Regions from separate parts of the Homo sapiens genome. Here region 2 is linked to region 1. Evidence: fine-mapped expression QTL. Tissue or cell type: whole blood. Region 1 holds a variant in brackets; the other region holds the start of a gene. All regions are shown on one strand. Distances are from middle to middle.

Region 1 (8,000 bases):
GCTGGCCATGGTGGTGCATGCCTGTAATCCTAGCTACTTGGGAAGCTGAGGTGGGAGGATCACTTGAATCTGGGAGGCCGAGGTTACAGTGAGCCAAGCCTGGGAGACAGAGTGAGACTCTGTCAAAAAAAAAAAAAAAAATTTACAAAACTTAGAAATACCAGTGTCTCCAGATTAGTAGGAACCAGCACAAGAATTCTTGCACCATGAAAAATCTGAATGTAGTGACACTACCAAAAGTTCACACAGCTCTCCAGTAATGGTTCCTAATGAAAATGGAAACTCAGAAATGACAGATAAAAAAATTCAAAGCATGGATTGCAAGGAAAATCAATTAGATCCAAGATAAGATTGAAAATCAACACAAAGAAACTTCTAGAGCAATCCAGGAAATGAAGAAAGAGATAAACATCCTAAAAAGAAATCAACCAGAGTTTCTGGAATTGAGAAACTCACTTAAGGAATTTCAAATACAATTGAAAGCTTTATTAATAGACTAAACCAAGCAGAAGAAAGAATTTCAGAGTCTTGTCTTTCAAACTAATCCAGCGAGACAAAAATAAAGAAAATAATTTAAAAAAATGAATAAAGTTTTCAAGAAATATGGGGAGCATATAAAGCGACCAAAGGTATGAAGTATGGAATTCTGGAAAGAAGGAGAAAAAGCAAACAAACTGGAAAACATATTTGAGGGAATAATTTAAGATAATTTCCCTAATCTTTCCAGAAACATTGACATCTGGGTACAAGAAATCCAAAAAACACCTGAAAGATGCTATACAAAGTGAACATCATCAAGGCATATAGTCACGACTGTCCAAGGTCATTGCTAAAGATAAAAATCCTTTTTTTTTTTTGAGACAGAGTTTCACTCTGTCACCCAGGCTGGAGTGCAGTGGCGTGATCTCAGCTCACTGCAATCTCTACCTCCCAGGCTCAAGCGATTCTTCTGCCTCAGCCTCCCAAGTAGCTGGGATACAGGCATGCACCACCACCCCCAGCTAATTTTTGTATTTTTAGTAGAGATGGGGTTTCACCATGTTTGTCAGGCTGATCTTGAACTCCTAACCCTGTGATACACTCGCCTTGGCCTACCAAAGTGCTGGGATTATAGGTGTGAGCCACTGCACCCGGCAAGAAAAAAATCTTAAAAGCAGCTAGAGAAAAAGGTCAGATCATGTACAAAGGGAACCCCATCAGGCTAACAGTGGACTTCTTAGCAGAAACCTTAAAAGCTAGGAGAGATTGGGGACCTATTTTTACCATTCTTAAACAAAAGAAATTCCAACCAAGAATTTCACATCCTGCCAAACTAAGCTTCATAAGCAAAGAAGAAATAAAATATTTTCCAGACAAGCAAGTGCTAAGGGAATTCATTGTCACTAGACCAGCCTTATGAGCAATCCTTAAGGGAGTTCTAAACAGAAATAAAAGCACAAAAGCACGCTAAAGTACATAACTCACAGACCCTATAAAACAACCACACAACAGAAACTGCAAAGCAACCAGCTAACAAATTTGTGTTAGGATCAAAACCTCACATGTCAATATTAACCTTAAAGGTAAATGGTCTAAATGACCCACTTAAAAGTCAAAGTGGCAAGTTGGATAAAAATATCAAGACTCATCTGTCTGCTGTCTTCAAGAGACCCATCTCACAGGTAACTACACCAACAGGCTCGAAGTAAAGAGTTAGAGAAAGATCTACCACACAAACAGAAAACAAAAAAAGAGCAGAAGTTATTGTTTTTATATCAGATGAAACAGAATTTAAACCAACAACAGTGAAAAAGTAGAAAGAAGGGCATTATATAATGATAAAGGGTTCAATTCAACAAGAAGACTCAACTATCCTAAATATATATGCACCCAAAATTGGAGCACGCAGATTCATAAAGCAATTACTTCTACACCTATGCAAAGACTTAGACAGCCACACAATAATAACGAGGGACTTCAGTATCCCACTGGCAGTGTTAGACAGATCGTTGAGGTAGAAAGCTAACAAAGAAATTCTGGACTTAAATTCGACACTTGATGAATTGGAATTAATAGACATCTGCAGAATACCCCACTCATCCACCACAGAATATACACTCTTCTCATCTGCACACAGAGCATACTCCATGATCAACCACATGCTCAGCCATAAAGCAAGTCTGAATAAATTCAAAAAAATTGAAATCATACCAACCATACTCTTAGACCACAGTGGAATAAAACTAGAAATCAATAGCAATAAGATCTCTCAAAACCACACAATTACATGGAAATTAAATAACTTGCTCTTGAGTGACTTTTTGGCTAATAATGAAATTAAGGCAAAAATTTAAAAATTCTTTGAAATAAAAGATAACAGAAACACAACATATCAAAATCTCTGGAGTGCAGCAAAAGCAGTCTTAAGAGGAAAGTTTATAGGTCTAAATGCCTACCTCAAAACATTAGAAATATCTCAAACTATCTAATATCACACCTAAAGAAACTAGAAAAGCAAGAACAAACTAACCATAAGCTAGCAGAAGAAAAGAAATAACTACAATCGAAGCTGAACTGAATGAAATTGAGACCCCAAAATTCATACAAAACATCAACAAAACCAAAAGCTGGTTCTTTGAAAGGATAAACAGGACTGATAGACCACTATCTAGATTATCAAAAGAAAAAAAAAGAGAAGATCCAAATAAACACAATCAGAAACAACAAAGATGACATTACAACCAATTCCACAGAAACACAAATGATCCTCTGAGACTATTATGAACACCTCTATGCATACAAACTAGAAAATACAGAAGAAATGAATAAATCCTTGGAAACACACAATCTCTCAAGATTGAACCAAGGAGAAATTGAAAACCTAAACAGGGCAATACTGAGTTCTGAAATTGAAGTAGTAATTTAAAAATCAACCAATTAACAAAAGCCCTGGACCAGATAGATTTACAGCTGAATTTTACCAGATATACAAAAGAGAGCTGGTACTAATTCTACTGAAACCAATCCAAAAAATTGAGGAGGAGGTTCTCCTCCCTAACTCATTCTATGAAGCCAGCATCACACTGATACTAAAGCTAGACAAGGATAAAACAAATGAAGAAAACTACAGACCAATATTGCTGATGAACACAGACAGAAAAATCCTCAACAAAATACTAGCAAATTGAATTCATCAGTACATCAAAAAGTTAGATCAAGTAGGTTTCATTCATGGAATGCATGGTTGGTTCAACATACACAAATTAATACATATGATTCATCACATAACAGAATTAAAAACAAAAACCTTATGATCATCTTAATAGATGCGGAAAATGCTTTCTATAAAAGCTATAACTTCTATCTGATAAAAACTCTCAAGAAACTAGGCATCAAAGGAAC[A/G]TACTTTGAAATAATAAAGAGCTATCTATGACAAACCTACAGCCAACATCATACTGAATAGGCAAAAACTGAAAGCATTCCCTTTTGAGAACTGGAACAAGACAAGAATGGTCGCTCTTACTACTCCCATGCAACATAGTACTGGAAGTGCTAGCCAGAACAATCAGGCAAGAAAAAGAAATAAAAGGCATCCAAACAAGAAAAGAACAAGTCAAACTATATCTCTTCATGAATAATATGATTCTATACCCAGAAAACCCTGGAGACCCTGCTAAAAGGCTCTTGAAACTGATAAGCAACTTCAATAAAGTTTAAGGATACCAAATCAATGTACAAAAGTAGGTAGAATTTCTATACCCCAATAACATTCCAGCTGAGAGCCAAACCAAGAATGCAATCCCATTTACAATAACCACAAAAACAAACAATAAAATACCTAGGAACACATCTAACGAAGGTGGTGAAAGATCTCTATAAGGAGACTTACAAAACACTGCTAAAAGAAATAATAGATGACACAAACAAATGGAAAAACATTCCATGCTCATTAATTGGAAGAATGAACATCATTAAAACGGCCATACTGCCCAAAGCAATCTACGGATTCAAGTTATTCCTATCAAACTATCAATGTCATTTTTTTCACACAACTAAAAATACTATCCTAAATTTCATGTGGAAATTAAAAAGAGCCTGGATAGCCAAAGCAATCCTAAGCAAAAACAACAAAGCCAGAGGCATCACATTACCCAATGTCAAACTATACTATAAGGCTACAGTAATCAAAACAGCATGGTATTGATACAAAAACAGACACATAGACCAGTGGAACAGAATAGAGAACTAGAAATAAAGCTGCAAACCTACAGTCATCTGATTTTCAACAAAGTTGACAAAAATAAGCAATGGAGAAAGGACACCCTCTTCAATAAGTTGTGCTGGAATAGCTGGCTAACCACATGCAGAAGAATGAAACTAGACCCTTTTTTTATACCATATACAAAAATTAACTCAAGATGAATCAAAACTGAAATGTAAAACCCCAAACTATAAAAACCATGGAAGACAACCTAGGCAATACTATTCTGGTCATAGGAACAGGCAAAGATTTCATGATGAAGATGCCAAAAGCAATTATAACAACAGCAAAAATTGTCAAATGAGATCTAATTAAATGAAAGAGCTTCTGCACAGCAAAATAAACTATCAACATAGTGAACAGGCAACCTGCGGAATTGAAAAAAATTTTTTTGCAAATTATGTGCGTGACAAAGGCCTAATAGCCAGCATCTATAAGGAACTTAAACAAATTTACAAGAAAAAACCAAACAACCCCATTAAAAAGTGGGCAAAGGACATGAACAGACACTTTTCGCAAGAAGACATACATGCAGTCAACAATCATATGAAAGAAAGGTCACCATCACTGATAATTAGATAAATGCAAATCAAAACTACAATGAGACACCATCTCGCACCAGTCAGAATGGCTACTATTAAAAAGTCAAAAAAATAATTAGCCGGGTGTGGTGGCACACCCTGTAATCCCAGCTACTCGGGAGGCTGATGTGGGAGAATTGCTTGAACCCAGGAGGTTGAGGCTGCAGTGAACCGAGTTCGTGCCACTGCACTCCAGCTTGGGCAACAGAGAGAGACCCTGTCTCAAAAAAAAAAAAAAAAAAAAAAAGGGCCTGGCACAGTGGCTCACGCCTGTAATCCCAACTCCTAACACTTTGGGAGGCCAAGGCAGGCAGATCACAAGGTCAGGAGTTCGAGACCAGCCCGACCAACATGGTGAAACCCCCGTCTCTACTAAAAATACAAAAATTAGCCAGATGTGGTGGCATGCACCTGTAATCCCAGCTACTCAGGAGGCTGAGGCAGGAGAATCGCTTGAACCCAGGAGGCGGAGGTTGCAGTGAGCCGAGATCGCACCACTGCACTCCAGCCTGGGCGACAGAGCAAGACTCCATCTCAAAAAAAAAAAAAAAAAAGTAAAAAAATAACAGATGCTGTTGAGACTGTGGGAGAAAGGGGAGTGTAAATTAGTTCAGCCATTGTGGAAGACATTGTAGTGATTCCTCAAAGACCTAAAAACAGGACTACCATTTGACTCAGCAATCCCATTACTGGGTATATACCCCAAGGTATATAAATCATTCTATTATAAAAATACATGCACATGTATGTTCACTGCAGCACTATTCACAATAGCAAAGACATGGCATCAACCTAAATGCCCATCAGTGGTAGACTGGATAAAGAAAATGTGGTACAGACACACCATGGAATATTATGCAGCCATAAAAAAACCCCATGAGATTATGTCCTGTGCAGGATCATGGATGGAGCCGGAGGCCATTATCCTTAGCAAACTAACACAAGAACAGAAACCAAATACTACATGTTCTCATTATGAGACACATGGATACATAGAGAGAAAGAACACACACTGGGACTTATTTGAGGGCAAAGTGTGGGAGGAGGGAGAGGATCAGGAAAAATAATGAGTACAAGGCTTAATACCTGGGTGATGAAATAATCTGTACAACAAACTCCCATGACACAAGTTTACCTATATAACAAACCTACACATGTACCTCTGAACTTAAAATAAAAGTTAAATTTAAAAAAGAGACAGAGACAGCAGATCAGAAAGATAAACAGCAAAATATTAATGCTGGTTATCACTGGTTGGTGGGATATTAGACAATTTTTGCTTTTAACCGTGATCATTCAAATGCTTTATATTGAACCTGTACTGTTTTCAACATTAAAAAAAATACTCAGGTTTAAGAAGAAACTAAAAAATAAAAACAGAAAATTGAAGAATGCTCTTCTCTGTACTCTTAAAGCAAACAGGCCTGTTTGCCTTAAGAAAAGTTTAAAAAGCACAAATAAGAACTGTAAAAAGCACTGCAAATGTTAGATGATAAGGTATATGTTGTGTAGAAAGTGAAAATTGTATCTTTTATAAAACCATTATTAAACAAAGAAATACAATGTAAATTTCCTGGAAACATACCAGAAGCAAAACTTTTAAACAAAATTCTGAGCTGGGTTTGACTTCTAGGACTGCATGGGCCCCTATTGTAGCAGCTGTGAGTGCAGAAACCCAAAAGATCAGAGAGCAAGGTGATACCTGTGACTTAGCCCTTCAGTGTCAACCTGGACACATCCTCATAATAGCCCCATTCCCTAAAGGATGCGGTTCCCTGGATGGTCCAAAGTGGGACTTCAGCCTAGTCTTTACAGACTTTTTAAGCAAAAACTCAGGGAGGTTAAATAACAAGCCAAGGTTGCCCAGTTGGGGAGGCCTGATGTCTTGAGAATCTGTGTTTTCCCTACATCCCTGTCCTCAGTTGAGATTATCTGAGGAATGTAAAGGCAGAAATTTTTGTTACCTGGAGATTTGAAGAGAGACCAAATGTTTGTGGGAAAACGACAGTCAAATCGACCATCAAAATCAGTAGAAATGTATTCCTATTTACCAATTTTAACACGTTAATACCAATAATCATTTTTCTGTGCACCAATTGTATAGCTTAAGAATTTGAAGCTCCCGTACATCAAGTTGGAAGCACTTTTTCTTTAGTGAAGTCTTGGAAAGATCAGAATAACTGGGTTCACACAGCTGGACACTCCTGCCCCCTGCTGGCTAGAATTAACTAAAACCAGACGATTTTAAGTTAACTGTAGGAACAACACTTTGAAACCTCTCAACTTTTCTAATAAAAGATAGCCAGCTCTTCCCTTACTTTGACGGGTAAAGTTCTTAGTTTATTTTCTTCAAAAGAGAGAGAGAGGGAACAGCTTGCATTCTGCTTTTCCCTCCTCTTCCTCCATCTTGTTGCCTTGTCATAGCCTGCCCAAGTGCTGATTTGTTTCATTATATGGTAAGAAGATAAGGGCAGTGTGTTTATAATTCAAATGTAATCAACAGTTTAAAATAGTATCCAGTACACAGAAGGTGCTCAGTAAATGTTGAGCAAATAAGAAGCAGAGGCAAAGTTGGAGAGAAAGCTGGAGAGAAAGATTGAGAGACGAGGATAAGAAAGAGAACCTATTCTTTCATGGACTGTTTCTCCCCTCTATTTGGGAGAGATATTTATTTAAGAAATACTAATATCATCCTTAGTATGTGCCAGGCATAGGAAATAGGAACTCAGTTAAGTAGGCATAAACAGGCATTGTCCTAAGCACTTTACAAATATTCTTAGTCCTCATAATAAACCTATAAAGTGAACATTATTATATTTATTTTACAAATTCGGAGACTAAAGCAGGAAGATTAAGTGAAATTCCCCAATGTTTAATTGCTAGTATAAGTGATGGGGCTGAGATTTAATCCTAGGGAGTTTGGCTCCACAATTCACACTTTTAACCAGACACATGCTGCCTCTCCAAAAAATGCAAAGAGGGGAGAGCAGAGATAGGGGAGAGCACAGAGAGGGGAGAAAAATAGTTGCGGAAGAATTGTACCAATCTTTCCACATAAGTCACTTGCCTTCTGGAACATTGTTAGAGTGGGTTATTTCAAAAGACCTGTCTTCAAGTCTGACATTCTCTCTGCTGCTTGGTCTAGTCTATTGTTGAAGCTTTCAACTATATTTTGTATT
Region 2 (8,000 bases), 250 kb after region 1:
ATACCCATGTGTCAAAACTCATCAAATTGTACACTTTAAATACATGCAGTTGATTGTATATCAATTATACTTCAATAAAGTAATTTTCTATAAAAGGCAAAAAAGAAAAAGCCTGAAGTGCACCAAAGTGATTTTTAGCGAACAGAACATGGAAAGCTATGATAGAGTTACAATCCAGTTAAGTTCAGTGTTTAAAGAAATTATTTTTTACTGCTTAGACTTGAGGAGGATGGCAATTTAAACAAATATGGCTATTCCTCAGCTTGTTGTGCCTTACTTTATTGCAGCAGTCCCCAACCTTTTCAGCACCAGGGACCGGTTTCATGGAGGACAATTTTTTTCAATGGACAGTTGGTGGGGGATAATTTCGGGATGAAACCATCCCACCTCAGATCATCAGGCATTAGATTCTCATAAGGAGCGCACAACCTGGATCCCTTGCATGTGCAGTTTACAATAGGGTTCAGGCTCCTGTGAGAATCTAATGCCGCAGCTGATCTGACAGGAGATGGAGCTCAGGCGGTAATGCTCATTTGCCCACAGCTCACCCCTGCTGTGAGGCTGGGTTACTAACAGGGAGGGTACCAGTCCCTGGGGGTTGGAGACCCCTTCTTTGCTGCACTTTGCAAATATTGTTTTTATTTATTATTATTATTTTCTTTTATTTTTACAAATTTAAGGTTTGTGGTAACCCTGTGTTGAATAAGTCCCTCAGTGCCATTTTTTCAGCAGCATGTGCTCACTTCATGTCTCTGTGTTAGATTTTGGTAATTCTCACAATATTTCAGACTTTTTGTATTATTCTTGTATCTGTTATGGCGGTCTGTGATCACTGGTCTTTGATGTTACTATTATAATTGTCTTAGGATGCAATGAACTGTGCCTATGTAAGATGGCAAACTTAATTAATAAATGTTGTGTGGTTCTGACTGTTTCACCAACTGGCTGTTCCCCCAACTCCCTCTCTCTCCTGGGGTCTCCCTATTCCCTGACCTAATATTGAAATTAGGCCCATTAATATAACCCTACAGTGGTCTGTAAGTGTTCAAATGAAAGGAAGAGTCTCATGTCTCTCACTTTAAATCAAAAGCTTAATAGGGAGGAAGGCATGTCAAAAGCTGAGAACTAGGCCTCTTGAGCCAAACTGCTAGGCAAGTTGTGAATGCAAAGGAAAAGTTCAAGAAGGAAATGAAAAGTGCTGCTCCAGTGAACACACAATGATAAGGAAGCAAAACAGTCTTATTGCTGACATAGAGAAAGCTTTGGTGGTCTAGATAGAAAATCAAACCAGCCACAACATTCCTTTTAGCCAGGGTCTAATCCAGAGCAAAGCCTTAACTCTCTTCAATTCTATAAAGGCTGAAAGAAAGGTAAAAAATCTTCAGAAGAAAAATTTGAAACTAGCAGAGGTTGGTTCATGAGATTTAAAGAAAGAAGCTGTCTCCATAATACATGAGTAAAAGGTGAGGCAGTAAGTGCTTAGGTAGAAGCTGCAGCAAGTTATCCAGAAGATCTAGCTAAGATCATTGATGAAGGTGGATACACTAAACAACAGATTTTCAATGTAAATAAACATCCTTATATTGGAAGAGGATGACATCTGGGACTTTCCCAGCTAGAGAGAAGTCAGTGCCTGGCTTCGAAGCTTCAAAGGACAGGATGACTCTCTTGTTAGAGGATAATGCAGCTGGTGACTTTAAGTTGGAGCCAATGCTCATTTGCTATTCTGAAAATCGTATGGCCCTTAAGAATTATAATAAATCTACTCTGCTTGTGTTTTATAAATGGAAAAAGAAAGCCTGATAGCAGCACATTTGTTTACAGCATATTTTATTAAATATTTTAAGCCTACTGTTGAGAGCTACTGGCTTCACAAAAAGATTCCTTTCAAAATACTACTGCTTATTGACAATACATTTGGTCATCCAACAGCTCTGATGAAGATGTACAAGAAGGTTCATGTTGTTTTCATGCCTGCTAACACAACATCTGTTCTGCAGCCCATAGGTCAAGGAGTAATTTTGCCTTTCAAGTCTTCTTATTTAAGAAATATATTTTGCTAGGCTACATCTGTCATAGATAATGATTCCTCTGATGGATCTGGGCAAAGTAAATTGAAAAGCTTCTGGAGATCATTCACCATTCTAGATGCTAGAAGAGTTGCTTCTGTGGATGAGCAAAGTAGTTTTTTTTGAGATGGAATTTACTCATGGTGAAGATGCTGTGAATATTGTTGAAATGACAACAAAGGATTTTGAATATTTTATAAACCTGACTGATAAAGCAGTGGCAGAGTTGAGAGGACTAACTCCAATTTTGAAAGAAGTTCTACTGTGGATAAAATGCTATCAAGCAGCATTGCATGTTACAGAGAAATCTTTTGTGAAAGGAAGAGTCAATTGACACAGCAAACCTCATTATTGTCTTATTTTAAGAAATCGCCACAGCAATTCCAACCTTCAGCAACCACTACCCTGATCCATCAGCAGCCATCAACACTGAAACAAGACTCTCCATCAGCAAAGAGATTAGGAATCACTGAAGGCTCAGATCATCAGTACACTTTTTTTAAAAAAAGCATTAAACCATTTTCAAGGTAAGATATGTACATTTTTAAGACAAAATGCTATTGCATACCTAATGGACTGCAGTATGGTGTAAACATAACTTTCACATGTGTTGAGAAACCAAAAAAATTGTGTGACTCACTTTATTGCAATATTTGTGGTGGTTTGGAACCAAACCTGCAACATTTTTGAGGCATGCCTGTAGAAGGTAAGAAGTATCAACAAAAAATTTCTGTTAAATTAGGAGAATCTTTACTACTTTGTTTCCTTTGAAGAGAATGCAAAAGATTTTATTTTGTCTAGGAGATGCTGGAAATAGGAATATCTTGATCTAAAAATTATTGGGAATTATTTACAAAAAGCACAGAGGTTATGATAGAATTTCAGCATCATATGACATTGGATAAGAAATTTTGTTCTATTTTGTAATTAATTTATATATCTGTTCTCTTTACTTTTTCATATATTGTAAAAACACAGTGGGTTTAGTTAGAAAAATAAGGCTGAAAATGTCCCACACTTAAACAATACAAATAAAATTTTAACAAGATGACAAAACTATAGATTACAACCACAAAAAGTTAATGAATTAGAAGGTAGAAAGATTATAATGTATGCTTTATGTTTTTTTGTATGTGTGTGTGTGTGTGTGTGTGTGTGAAAAGAAAGCCAATGTTCTAAAGTGATTTTGTAAGTGACTTCTTTCTAGTACAGAGTCCAAGTTTCCAATGTCATTCCTGCTTGAATTTCATCACACTATTGAACACAGCAGACAAAAAAATACTGTAAGATTTGCAGTGCAACAGTGCCAGGTGTTTTAAAATGTAAACGTTGCTTTCCTGGATATAAGTTACTATGTAAGTGGAATGAAATATTTAATCACATGGCATAAATCTTTTGAAAGAGACTATCTGAGAGATCCTTGGAAACAAATGATTGCTGTATACTACTAGACAAAGTCAAATATGCCATAGAGCAATTAGTTACGGTAAAACTTGCCTTGTTTAGTTTTGGTGCTTTGTTTTAAATGATTTCAACTAGTCTCAGCTATTTAAAAAATACATTCTTTTCTTTCTTTATGACTGTGCTAATTTAGATTATCAAGTTAAAATAGAACTGCTCCAGAAATTCAGAGTGAATGGAAGGGTGTTTAATAATAACTTTAATACACATTTTACAATTTTTGAACATACAGAAACATTTTGAAAGCAAACCCCCAGCTCAAATAGTAAGTTCACAAAAATCTAAATGTTAAGGTTACAGATGGGACCTAGCTTGATTTGGACTGATGTAACAAAACTTTATAAAATCGGTGGAGCTATTTTTTATAAAAATGACCACCTCAACATAATTAAATTACTTGATGCATTTTAGATACAAAATATGGTTGATTTACTAAGCATGTTAAGATAAAATAGCTAAGTGAAGCACATATTCTATATTTCTTTGTAAATATGGTATGTAGTATTACTTTTATTTTATAGCTGGTGAAGAGAGCTTGTGATACCTAATTTGTCAATGGTTTCAGTGAATCACAGCTATATAAAAGCACAGACCTTTAGAGCTGGAAGGAATTTAGCTATCTTGACCATTATTGGTCTAGTTGAAAAAGAGGTATGAAAACTGGCTCCAAAACCAGATTCTTGAGTTATCTTTCCTTGTAAAGGACTTGTAAAATTTCCTGGGTCAGCATTCCCTTTCTTTGTTTCAGATTTTCTTTTTCTGAATTCATTCTTACTAATTATTCATTTTTGAATAGTCTTCTAATCACTAGATTAAGGTTTTGCTCATCTCCAAACATGATCGAAGTGAGCCTCAGAAGACCCTTCATTTGAGCTCATATGCACAGCGCTTAAACCGACACCCAATTTGACCAAACATGTAAGGACATGACCTTCCAGCGTCATGAATATCACGACGTTCCTTTAGCAAGGGCTTTGCTTAATAGGGCTGCAGTGAAAATCCTCCGTCTAAATCCTTGAGAAGTTGTAATTTGTAAAAATGCAAATTATCTGAAACCAGATATTTTTTTCTTTTTCTTTATGGAGAGAAACTGGTCTGTTACATCTAGTAAAGCGTTCTAATCCGGTTGACCCTCTAGAGGGAGACATAGTCCAGCTTTTATACCAGTTGCCTCCTCATCTTTTACTGTCTCGTTCTTTTTCTGCAGGACCGTTGTTTGCTCTCAACGGCAGTTGCTGGGGCTAACAGAACTGGCTGTTGGGAGAGAGAGGCGAGGCAACGCCGCCCGGCCCTGCCATTCCATTTTACTGCTTAACTCAACCTGGAGTGTCAGGACCTATTCTCCTGCATTCTCGCTGCACTATACGGGGGAGCCAAGTCACTCTGTACTCACTGGACAGCCAGGCTGGGTGGAATAGGGTTCTAGAGTGGAGCAGGGGCTCTGCCCTTTATGGCGACTTTCTAAAAGATTAGCATCAGTGTCTTTTGACAGTATAGCATCTGGGGTGGGACGCGGAGAGGAGGCTTTGCTTGCTAAACGGCTTCTTTCTCCGCCGGTGATCTGGATTTGTTTCCTCGGCCCCCTCCCCCCGCTCCTTTCTTTCTCCCCTCCCGCCTTTAGCAAAGTGACACAGGCGACACCTGCTCGCTTGTGTTCGATGTTGGAACTCGCACCTCCTCGGTGGTGACGGTGCCAGGGCACTGCTACCAGGGGGACATCGGCGGGTTTCCCTTCCTTCCAGCCCACGATGCCTAGAAGGGCAGCGGGTGGGCTGCGTGGGGCTCTGCCCGCAGCACTTCGAGGCGGGATTGAGGGGCTGAAGCTGGCCAGGAGTTGCTGCTAAGTGGATTCGAGTGGAAGGCGCCAAGTCTCCGCGAGGGCACCAGCGGGGACCTATCTGCGAGCAGTGGGAACAGGGGCACCTGGACGGAGGAACGCGGGCGTCTGGAGGGGGGACATCGGCTGAGCTCAGAGCCTCTCCTCCTTCCTGTCCCGAGCTTCCCAGCAACTCCGCCACGTTGGAGACCCGGTACCTGCGAGAGCCAGGGAACTCGAGAAGTGCGTGGCCGAGGCTGCTTTCCTGAAGGTGAATCATTCTGTCCAATTGCCTTTCCCCAGAGAACAAGAGGGAGGGCGGGAGAGAGGGAACGGAGGATGTGTGAGTGTGTGTGTGTGTGAGAGGGAGAGACGACGTGAGGCGAGAGGAAAAGTCTTTAGTCGGCCTTAAAAGCAAACAAATCAGAGATGGAATAAGAGCGGTAATTGCAGCAAGACCGCCTTGATTCTTGCAGTCCAGGGAGCTGAGCGCACCGCGCGCATCCGGCGAGGACAGGAGGCGACCGCGGGCGCTGCCAAGGGCTGCGGGACTTTGGCTTTTCCTCAGTAAACAAATCTTTTGATTACTTTGACACTGTGGAATAAAGAAGCGGGGAGAAGGATCAGGCTCACCTTCACCCGCTTCAGGGGGATTCCAGCTTGGATGTCAGATTCCTGAACCGTCTTTGCCATCGGAGGAGGAAACACATCCACACACGCGCGCGCACACTCGCACGCTCAGGGCCACACTCACACGCCGCCCTCCACGATCACACAGCACCAGACTTCGGTTCCCTATGCCCCTGGATGGTGACGGCGGATTGGCATCTTGGAAGCGATGCGAGAGCGATAAGGCTGGCGCCGGCCCGCAAAAGCTGCAGGAGCATCGCTAGGTGTTGCCGCCACCGGGAAGCGGGGCTGCAGGTAGGTGCGAGCCGCGCCTCGGGTCGCCGGCCAGCGCTGGGGACCGGAGCGGCAACTGCAGGACCGCGGTCCCGGAAGCCCCCGTGTGCACACGTCTCCCTTCCCCTTTCTCGGGGGTCCGGGACTGTAGAGGGATCGCCCGGGGAAGGCGAGAGGTGAGGGCAGATGCGGGTCCATCGGCCGGCGTCTCCCTCGCGGGCGGTCAGGGTAGGGGCGGAGTAGAGGGACGCCGAGAGGGGATCGGAGCATGCGAAATGAGGCTCCGTGAGCGGTGCCCTCCCTCTCTGCCCCATTTCTCCTAATAACAGCAAACGACCAGGTCGAGGATTGAAGTGGGTTGTAATTCGATTCCTCACCCAGACCCATCCTGGCTGGTAACCATTTTGGACTCTTAATAAGGAGTTGGGGGTCGCATTCCAGGGAAGATCAATGGGATGTGTCAGGTCATCTTTCTGAAATCCCTACTTTTTGTCCACTTCTGATTAGTTAATTCTCAGGCCTGTTTGCAGAAGGTGGGTGTTTCAGCGAGTCTATTGATTTATCCACCTCTAACTATCTTCATAAAGAATCAAGCTGATAATTTCCGGAGCCTCATCTATGTAAGGTTTATTTAGATTTGGGACGGGGCGCTTTCTTACTGAATGAAATAAAGCTTTTGTAAAGGCTACTACAAGAGAGCTTTAGTAAATGATTCTCTTAACGAACAGCGTTCAGAATAAGAATGGCTTCGGGAAACTAATGGTTTTTTATTTCTTTCCGGTTAGATGTCTCCCGGATCTTGCTACTAGTACCCGGGTTTTCTGCTAACTGCTTTGCCATTCCTTCCCCCTTCAATTCTGAAAGGCCAGGTGCCTACCAAGTATTGTTTTCTTGAGGCTACTGATCTTCACTTATCAATGGGGGAACGTGTTATTTTCAGAAACTGGCTTTGCAAAGGAAAGTTTGAGATCCGTCGCCCTATTTCTCTCAGAACTGCAGGTTGAGTTATCCTGTCTGAAAAGGAAGAACCATAGACGCTCGTAGAGCCTTTGGGTGGACGCGAGGCTTCCCTATTGAGTATTCCACGTCCTGACCGAGTGTTAAACAATTGCCTGAAGCGTTTGGAATCAAATGTGTAGTAATGTTACTCCAGCGGCTAGTCTCTCTTCACCTTTGCTGCGTGAGTTTGATTATGGCAATAAGAGAGAGAGAGGGAAAAAATTATCTTTTTGTGAGTATGAAATCCCCTCTTGGATTTTACAAAATGGTTCGTGGAGAAAAAAAACCTTAAAAACCACAGACACACACACACACACACACACACACACACACACACACAAAGCAAACTCATAAGCAACCTTTACTCTGAAGTGTCCCCAAAGTACTTGGTAGTGTAGCAGGGTCCTTCACACAGGACAGGATGAATTTCAGTTACTATTGACTGAATGATAATTATCTGATTCTTGTCTTCTCAACTAGATTGTTTTAAACATCAACATTCAGAGTTGTCAATTAACACTCCTAAACTGCTTTATTAGGCATATAAGTTAAGACAAATGAACAATTAATTTAAGATTTTTGTGTAAAGTGCTAAACCAAAATAACCAGGAAAGGAGATTAAAAACACTTCTAAAGCTTTAAAAATCAGAAGATTAAGATTATTTGTACTTACCCCAGCCTTTCCATGTTTGCATTTGTACTCTCAGACTGATTAATCATTTGCAATATCAAAATTGGCACCTAACATCCTA

What was found. PIP is the estimated chance that this variant, and not a neighbour inherited with it, causes the effect.
Region 2: TAFA2 starts here. The variant in region 1 is fine-mapped to the expression of TAFA2 in whole blood (INTERVAL, PIP 0.99).

Annotation. Positions count from the first base shown.
Region 1 is chr12:62,437,351-62,445,350 of GRCh38, reverse strand. No RefSeq gene overlaps it. Among named protein-coding and RNA genes, the nearest start is that of MON2, 25 kb to the left of the region's middle. The variant A/G (reference allele first, on the strand shown) is at 3,382.
Region 2 is chr12:62,189,529-62,197,528 of GRCh38, reverse strand. TAFA2 (TAFA chemokine like family member 2) reads left to right here and starts at 4,756. Exons shown (of 5, transcript NM_178539.5): 1 at 4,756-6,270. RefSeq lists a silencer at 3,167-3,461 and an enhancer at 4,831-5,364.